Linked DNA regions of Homo sapiens: region 2 is linked to region 1. The links come from fine-mapping of genetic effects on gene expression. A gene starts in region 1. The other region holds a variant in brackets. All regions are shown on one strand. Distances are from middle to middle. Region 1 holds the start of CEP120 (centrosomal protein 120). Region 2 has its middle 10 kb from the start of CSNK1G3.

Region 1 (4,000 bases):
ACTCAAGTGATCCGCCCACCTCAGCCTCCCAAAGTGCTGGGATTACAGATGTGAGCCACTACCACACCTGGCCAAAAAGTCTTCATCTTTTAGAAGTACGTATCCAAAAAGATGAATTGATGTGATGTTGGGGATTTCTTTAAAAATAACACAACAGATGAAGATGATTGGTCTTAAGTTGATAATCGTTGAAGCTGGGGTCTGGGTAACTGGGGGTTCATTATATCATTCTGCTTTCTTTAAAGTATGTTTGACATCTTCCACAAAAATAATGCATTGTTCAATGATGAATCCAAAGTAGATCATTACTTTGATTTTACATTGAATAGTGCTTCATTTTAAGAATGCCTGTGATAGGACCTGAAAGGGCCTTAGAAGTAATTAGTCCAATCTCTACATATTCCTCCTTTTCTTTTGGGCAGAAAGCAAAGAAGGAAGAATAAAGAAGAGGAAGAAGAAAACAATAGTGATATTATATTATTTGCTCTCAAAATAACTTCTAAATTTCCAAAACAAGGAAGCAATAGAAGAAAAAGAAAACAGCGAGATATTATATTTGCTCTCAAAACAACTTCTCAATTTACAAAACCAGAAAGTAATAGGAGAAGCCGCACTTATGTCCACTACCTAGTGCTATCTCTGCAGCTTTATTTTATTATGATTTACTTTTGTTTTCCGAAGCAGAATTTTTCCCAAACTTAATAGTGTCCACGATCGCTCCAACCAATTCGGTTATTTAAGTTTCAAGCTAGATAACCTCCAAAAGAACTTTGCCTTTGACTTGAATACATGCTTCTTGCAATTTGAGTAGTGTTTAGGAGGCCGTTCCCTTTACAAGTCTTGAACCGTTTCTTAAATCTGAATTTGGGAGACGTTAAGGGGAAAGGGTCGGCAGACAGCACCTCAATGCCTTGTTTATTTTTGGTTTTGAGTTTGCTAATAACTTTGTCATCGGGGGTGGAAGAACCTTTATATTTCATTGCCCACGTGACAGTGTTTTTGTTTTAGGGGTAATTTCTAAGGGACAGGAAATTCTCGGGGAGTTTACGTCAGCTTTAACAAGTACAGTAATTACCGTATTGAAGCTACTTGTTTTCAAAGGTCGGAAATTTGAGGTGCCGCGTGAGCACGATTTAGGGACTTTAGAGTTTAGATTTAAGTCATTATTTTTTTGTGATTTAATTTTTTAAGCAGTGTTGACACTGGGTACGTCAACTAAGCTAGGTTTTTTTGTTTTTTTAATCCCCACTAATATAACTCTCAGGTTGTGGCTGAAGCATAAAGCAGGTAATACGCTACACTCACGCTCCTTAAAGGCTACGCAGCTTCAGGAAGCGTTTACAGCAGTAGTGCGCTTGCGCAGCTGGTCCCACACCAAGTCGCCCGCCTCTCCTCGTCCGGCTAGCAGAGGGCGCTGTGAGGTAATGAAGGCGTCCTCCTTAGGGCTCTGGAACAGAGCGTAAAAGGGCGGGAGGCGAAGCTCGCTGACGGGCGTTCTAGCCTTGACTGCTCTGTCTCTATCACCCGTTGTCCTCCAACCTCCCCTGGGCACTGGGCCTGCGGGCCTGGTTGCTAGGCGGAAGCTGGGCGCGGCGGCGGCCGCTGCGGCCGCCCGGGCGTTTGAAAAGCGGCTACGCAGGCGGCAAAAGGTCCTCGGGTGGCGGGCTTGTCTCTGCTTGCAGACTGGCAGGGCTGCAGCGTGGCTTTTTCCTTGAGTCGGGGCACAGTTAGGATCTGGGCTGGCGGCCCGAGGCAGAGGAGCCGGGCGCGCTGCAGCAGACGGCGGTGGGACCTGGCTGCGGAGCGGGGTCCGGGCATCAGGGACCGGGGGCGGGCAGTGGGGGTCCCGCCGGGGGTCCCGGATTACCCGCGACTCAACTGGACCTCACTTCCCCCCAGCCGCCTTCGCCCCCGGACCGCTCACCGCAACCATGGTCTCCAAATCCGACCAATTGCTCATCGTCGTGTCCATCCTAGAAGGTGAGCAGCCTGAGGCTTGCTTTTGCAACTGCTGCCTCCCGAGTTTTAAAAGCTTAGTGTGGGACCGAGGCCTTGTTAACCTTAAGAACCCTGTCATCTGTGCTTTTGTGGTCCCCACAGACTTGTTCAAAGTTGTACGTAGTGAGGTCTGTTAGGCAATTGATTTAAAAATCTCTCCAGGGATATGAGCGCTATTAGGGATAAGTGATATTTAGCGTGACTAGCCGTAGCCCCAGAGAATCTAGAGAAAACGATTTTCATCCAAAGCAGCACGTCGATGGCTTTTATATATGAGCTGAACGTGGTCCTGAGAAGCGCGTTCTGATCAGCGGTTCCCAATAATAGCACTTGTAAGAGCTTTGACTTGAATACAGGCTTCCTGCGATTCCAGAAGTGTTCCGGAGGCAATTCCCTTTACACGTCTTGCTGGAGGACTCAGGGGACTACAGTTCTTAAGAGGGTGTATTATACATTCCTTAAAAGGTGTGTTTTGGATGAATGACATTGGTTTATTGGGACTCATTGAGTGTCAGACACTGTGCTGGGAATGTAAGAATGAAACAGTCCTGATTCTAAAAAGCTAAGGATGTAGCAAGGAGAGTGTGTCAGCAAATAATTCATCAGGATGTGGAAGACCCTAATGAATGACCACCTCTGTCTAAGGAAACTGCGGAAGTTTCACTAGAGGAGGTGGCATTTTTTGGGGTCCTACAGATGATTAGGAATTTGTCAGGTGAAAAAAGGAAGGGCATTCCAGGCAAAGAGAAGAGCAGGGAGCACTTAAAGTATGGAAAAGCAAGACACGTTTTGCCTTGCTTAATTAAATTCACTCAGTAAACATTGGTTAAATTCAGTGTGGTTGGAGAACAGATTTGCAAGAAAGTGGAGGGCATAGGAGATAACAGGTGAATTGAGGACACTTTACGAATAGTATGTTAAGAAGGAGTCATCTTGAGCCAGAGCAGAAGCCTGGCTGCATTTTTTCCCCCATGGGAGAGTGTTTTATAAAGGCCTGGCACTGTGTGAGGGATGAGAGCAAAGGAAACATTGTAATCCTAATCTTTGAATTTTGGAACAAGAGACTGACCAGAAAAGCCATAAAGATTTGGAGCACTATTAACTGTTAGTTTACTTATTGTTTAAAAACATAGGACTGAAATAACCTTAAAATTTGGTTAACAACAGTTTTTAGACTTATAACTGACCATGCTATGAGGAAACAAATACCTCCATTCCCTCCAAGGATGTAGAGGTCTGTCCACGTGGGGAGATCACAGGACACAATATGTTGGGGTATAATATTTAAAATATGTGATATGTACTGTAAATATAGGTTTGAGGGTAGGGTGGGTGGGATGGCTGAAGTTCTTTAAATAATAAGTGAGCTTTAGATATGTGACAATAGAATTCTATGGACAACCCAGGCCAGTCTGACAACCCAGGACATAAATGCAATTCATTTGGGGAAGCTAGTTTTAGAGCAGCAGAAAATGAGGTCCTGAGAGAGGCCTGTTAGTGCTAATTGGGAGAGCTGTGCGATGTGTGTTAATATTCCTAATACAGAGTTTCAAGTGAGAGCCTCAGGCTTAAACTCAAAAGGTTAGCAGTCAAGGTCTTTCTGACCAGCTTGATTCCCAACCAAGTAGCTTGTGCCGGGGTGAGCATGGTGGGTGGAACATTGAAAAGATCAGCAAGATGACCAGGGTAGAGGAAGGTGAATATTTAGAAATGTCATGGTAAGAAATGAGCTTGTACAACTGGAGCGAATAGGCCTCAGAGGATCTTGAAAGCCAGTTTAGAATTAATGTTCCAAGAAATAGGTTGGCAGCATATATTCCTAAATAGAATGCTTTTCTTGAGTTCAGTTTAGTAGCAGTGTGCAAGGAAGAGAACCTGGAGTCAAGGATGTCTGTTAGGTTGTTTCCACAAACATACCCAAAACTAGCATGTGGTCCTCCCTCCAAACTATTCTTCTCTCTTGTTCGTACTGTATTTCCATTCATCATAACCATGCTGTTGC
Region 2 (4,539 bases), 79 kb before region 1:
GACATCTTTGGGAGAAAGGACATATTTTGCCTACCACAAGCACCAAGTCAAATAGAAGGGTTTTAGGTTTTAAAAAGGGGTTGAATCTAACCACAGTTGCTGAGATAAGACTTAATACCTACAAATGCCACATCTGGCTCTTAGAATAATTTTATCATTATTGCCCACAGCCTCATGTAATGGCAAATTGGATGAAATAAAACTAACAACTAGTGAGTGCCCAACTGAAGACTTTCAGGCATTTTCTAGAAAACATTTCTTAATCACCATAGGTAGGTATCATTTTCTCTTTCTTTGTAAATGAGAAAAGTAAGACTCAGAGTTTAAGCAAAGTGTTCAGGTCATTCAGCTAGTAAATGACAGAGGTACAATTTCTATACAGGTATTTCTGACTCCAAAGTCCATGTATTTACCCTGCTTTTCATGATGTGGAATAAGGGGTGAGTTAGGAGATCCTGGGACACACTATCAGACTTAGGGTTGACTTATTATAATACAGTGTCTCCAGATTGAACCTGTTTAGACAAAGGAATAAAGGAAAGAGAGAAGGAGGAGGAAAGAAAGGATAGAGAGATCCTAAAGTAGTGATTTATGCCAAACTGAATTAGAGCAACTGTAAGTATGTATATGGGAGAGCAATGAAAAGAGACAGGCTGAAGGAAAGCCTTTTTAAAGCACAACTTCAAAGATGATAGCATTCACAGGAAACAGCACCAGTCAGAGAATTACTGTGGTGTGTACTCAGAATACTCTTTAATCAACTCTTATTGCAAAATGTCAGGTCCCAAAGAATGACAGATTCTTTAAGCTAAATAACCAATATTTACTTGTGTACAACTGGCTCACTTACATAAGTGATCCTTTCAGCCACATATCTACACAAATGATTATTAATAATTATTTTTAGTAAACATTCTCCAACCTTTAGCTGCTTACAACTCTAGGTTCTCTTTTCAGCTACTTTATCCTTGAAGATTCAGTAGGAAGTTGCATTGTTTGAAATTAGACAGTGTCTGTTCTAACATGTCCTGGTTAGGATTAGCTTTGATAAAAAGGTTGTGAGTCTAATTAATGGGTCTGCCATTAATTGGCAAGAGGTATTTAAGAATGTAACTTTAAACTGCCCTGTCAAATAATACTGAAAACATTTGAAAAAAATATTTTGGGGGAATTTTCTAAAAAATATGCAGCCTTTCTACTTCTATGGATATCTCAAATTTATGCTTTGATTTAGATACATCTGGCCCACATGATTTTGTATCTCCTCCACTGCCCCAACAAACACCTTGCATAGAACTTGCTTACCAAAATGTGGATTTCTGTTATGGATAACTTTTTTTTTTTTTTTGAGACAGAGTTTTGTATTTGTTGCCCAGGCTGGAGTTCAATGGCACAATTTTGGCTCACTGCAACCTCTGCCTCCCAGATTCAAGCAATCCTCCTGCCTCAGCCTCATGTGCATGTGCCACCACGCCTCCTGCATGTGCCACCACTCCTGAGTAATTTTTGTATTTTTAGTAGAGACGGGGTGTCGCCATGTTGGTCAGGCTTGTCTTGAAGTCCTGACCTGAGGTGATCCACCTGCCTCGGCCTCCCAATGTGCTGGGATTACAGGCGTGAGCCACTGTGCCCGGCCCTGTTATGGATAACTAAGTGATTACATTGTGGGACAATATAAGAAACTGTCCTATGAGACTCATTATAGCAATTACTGTAGGAATATTTTTAAGGGTGATATTTACTCCATCACACCATATCTTCGATGTGAGAACCCAAAGAACAAGTTTATTTTAAGTTACAATACCAGGAAGAATTATGTTTCTTTTATACAGCTGGTTTGTTTTAATCTTACGGGTGCCATAAATCATTTAACATTTCTATTTCCTTATGGTGCTGATTGCTAGGAAACCCAGAGCCAACTTTGTAGTCTATCTCAACGTATTCCATGTATCTTAAAACATGCATTTTAGTTAAGCAACTCTGGTGGTATAATCTTGTCTTGTATACTACTCCCTTTCATTTTTATCTTGTGCTATGTGTATTTTTGTAAACTGTCTTGATTTCTTTAAAGCACAGTATAGAAAATATGTTGGGGAAGTTCAGTTTATCTTTGTCTACTTAGGCACGTTGCATGAAAATTATTGGGTCTCTTTTTCCCCTCCAAATTTGGAGAGTATCTTTGGGTTAGTCTGGCCTAAATGTGACACTCCTGAATTTCACACCAAGGGTTATGGAGGGGCACCTCAAGGAGAAACACATTTGTCTCCTAGAGAGGCCAAAACTGAGATGCAAGAAGGTCAATATGACTTCTAATCAGGAGAAATACACTATTAAATTAAGTGTTTGGGTCAGAGAAAACAAGCAAATATAAGCTTAAACTCAAAAGAAGCAAGGACAGGCAAGTAATGGCACATGAAGCTGCTTTTTACGTGGACACTCGCTATATGTATTTTGCTCCAAAATATACAATATTCCTGTAATAGCATGAACTTGTGTGTTTAACCATAGCTAATGAATCTCCTGAGCAACATCCCCTGAATGGTCACTAGTAATTGAAAAAGAATTACAAGTGTAAGATAACTATCAACTCATTACACATTGAAAAAAATATAATAATAGCAATGCTACCATTGAACATTTATGGAGTGTCTACGATAT[A/T]TACCAGGCACTGTGGAAGTACTTTGCCTGCTTTCTCTCGTTTAATTTTCAGAGTCCCAGTAAGTTGGCATTTTTGTAAGTCCATTTTACAAATGAGAAATGTAAAGGAAAGCCACTAGAGGATTCAAGTAGAAGCTTGAAAGAATCTAATTTACATCTAAAGAAGACTCTGGCTGCTATGAAGAGATTTGACTCTAAGGGTAGCCAGTTTGGAGGCTGTTACTAGCACAACATGCTGACTAGGACCAGAATGGGATAATGGGATAATGGAATTGCTGAGAGGTTTTAGACTCATAATATATTTTAATTAACATGTGTGAGTGTAGGTGGGTGTGTATGTATGTGGTACACCATGTTTTTTCTCAAAGCCAATAAACTAAGTGAAAGTTATCAAATGTCAGTGAAGTTCTCCTGTCATTCTGCTCCATGCTGAGGGTGAAGCTAGGGCCTTTTTTCTGGTGATGTGATGCTACCAACTAGACCACCTTCCAATAAAGGGGTGTGATTTTGTTGTGGAAAGAGAGGAAGAAACTGCCAGCTTCCTTCTTCTGTTCCCTTTTGGTGAGTGCCGTGTCATTTCTCCTTTGAGCAGATTGTCATACCCACTGTGTCAGGGAACTTATGGGAAGAGATGTTAGGAAGTCAGAAACTTGGAAATATATTAAGGTCCCAAGACTTCTTAGTTATTTCTTGGCTTTTCCCTTCTATAAGCTTTCCCTCACTTTATACAGAGCTTTTATATGTAAATAAGAGCGATGGGGCTTCTAACAGCCAGGAAAATCTGAGGTAAAACTATGAGAATCAGCTTAAATCCTTGCCAGGTCTCAACCCCAAGGTACGTGACTAAAATGAATTTTTTGTAGATTACTAAATCCATGCTCCCCAAAACAAATTGTATTTCGAAATGACCTAGCATGACATAGACATTTCACTCCCACCAGAGTTCTAATTCTTGCCCTATTTTTCTTGCCTCAAACATATTTTCCTCCTTTATGATCTCCTTATTGTGTTCTCAGTAATATGGGTTTCCCATATGTCTTTCCACTGTCTGCGAGTAGATTATATGTTTTCTGGATTCTCTAATGTGGCATGAGGCTGCTACCATACTATTGGGCTAGCCTGAACCAGGATTCAAGATGGCATGTGGCAGTCATAAAGGGCGTCACTGTAAGTTTTTAGCTAGCTACATTTTAAATGTGTGCGTATATATAATATGCATTTAGATAATATATAATGTGTATATAATATACTTATATGTATGTATGTGTATATGATATACTTATATGTATGTGTATATAATATACTTATATGTATGTATATGTATATAATATACTTATATGTATGTATATGTATATATTAGAAAATAGGTAGTTGTTGTGCTGTGGGTATATTTGTTTTATACGTTATGCCTCCACCAGCTTCACCCATAACACACACACACACACACACACACACACACACAGTTTTAGTGACATTGATTCTACATTACTTCATGTGGGCAAAGTCAACTACTTTAACCTCCAAAAATCTGAACCACATGCTTTTCAGAGTGAGGTTTTGTTGCTCTCTGGGGAAGTACATAGATTTTTTTCACCTTTAATTCCATGTCCTTTTACAAACAGTAGATTCCTAGATCACTGTGAAGCCCATCCTGAAGAGCCTCACATGCCCTCAGATTGGATTATGATGACTGGCTTGGTAAAGTTACTGGAAATAAAGAACAGGAAACAAAAAGTACCTTTGCCTTTGGAAGATAGTCAGATCTAAATGTTCTGAAATTAACTCCACTTTAATTCTGCTTCCAGAACCCGAGCTAATTCCAACTCACCCTTTGGTCAAATCATCTACATCAGGGGTCCAAAGGACGGACCTACACTGGAA

The links. PIP is the estimated chance that this variant, and not a neighbour inherited with it, causes the effect. A credible set is the group of variants that fine-mapping cannot tell apart.
Region 2: its variant is the best candidate, but not a certain one, in a credible set for the expression of CEP120 in whole blood (INTERVAL, PIP 0.81).

The regions. Positions count from the first base shown.
Region 1 is chr5:123,420,930-123,424,929 of GRCh38, reverse strand. CEP120 (centrosomal protein 120) reads left to right here and starts at 1,527. Exons shown (of 20, transcript NM_001375405.1): 1 at 1,527-1,980. The coding sequence starts at 1,932. RefSeq lists a silencer at 1,827-1,986 and an enhancer at 1,316-2,261.
Region 2 is chr5:123,499,659-123,504,197 of GRCh38, reverse strand. No RefSeq gene overlaps it. Among named protein-coding and RNA genes, the nearest start is that of CSNK1G3, 10 kb to the left of the region's middle. The variant A/T (reference allele first, on the strand shown) is at 2,659.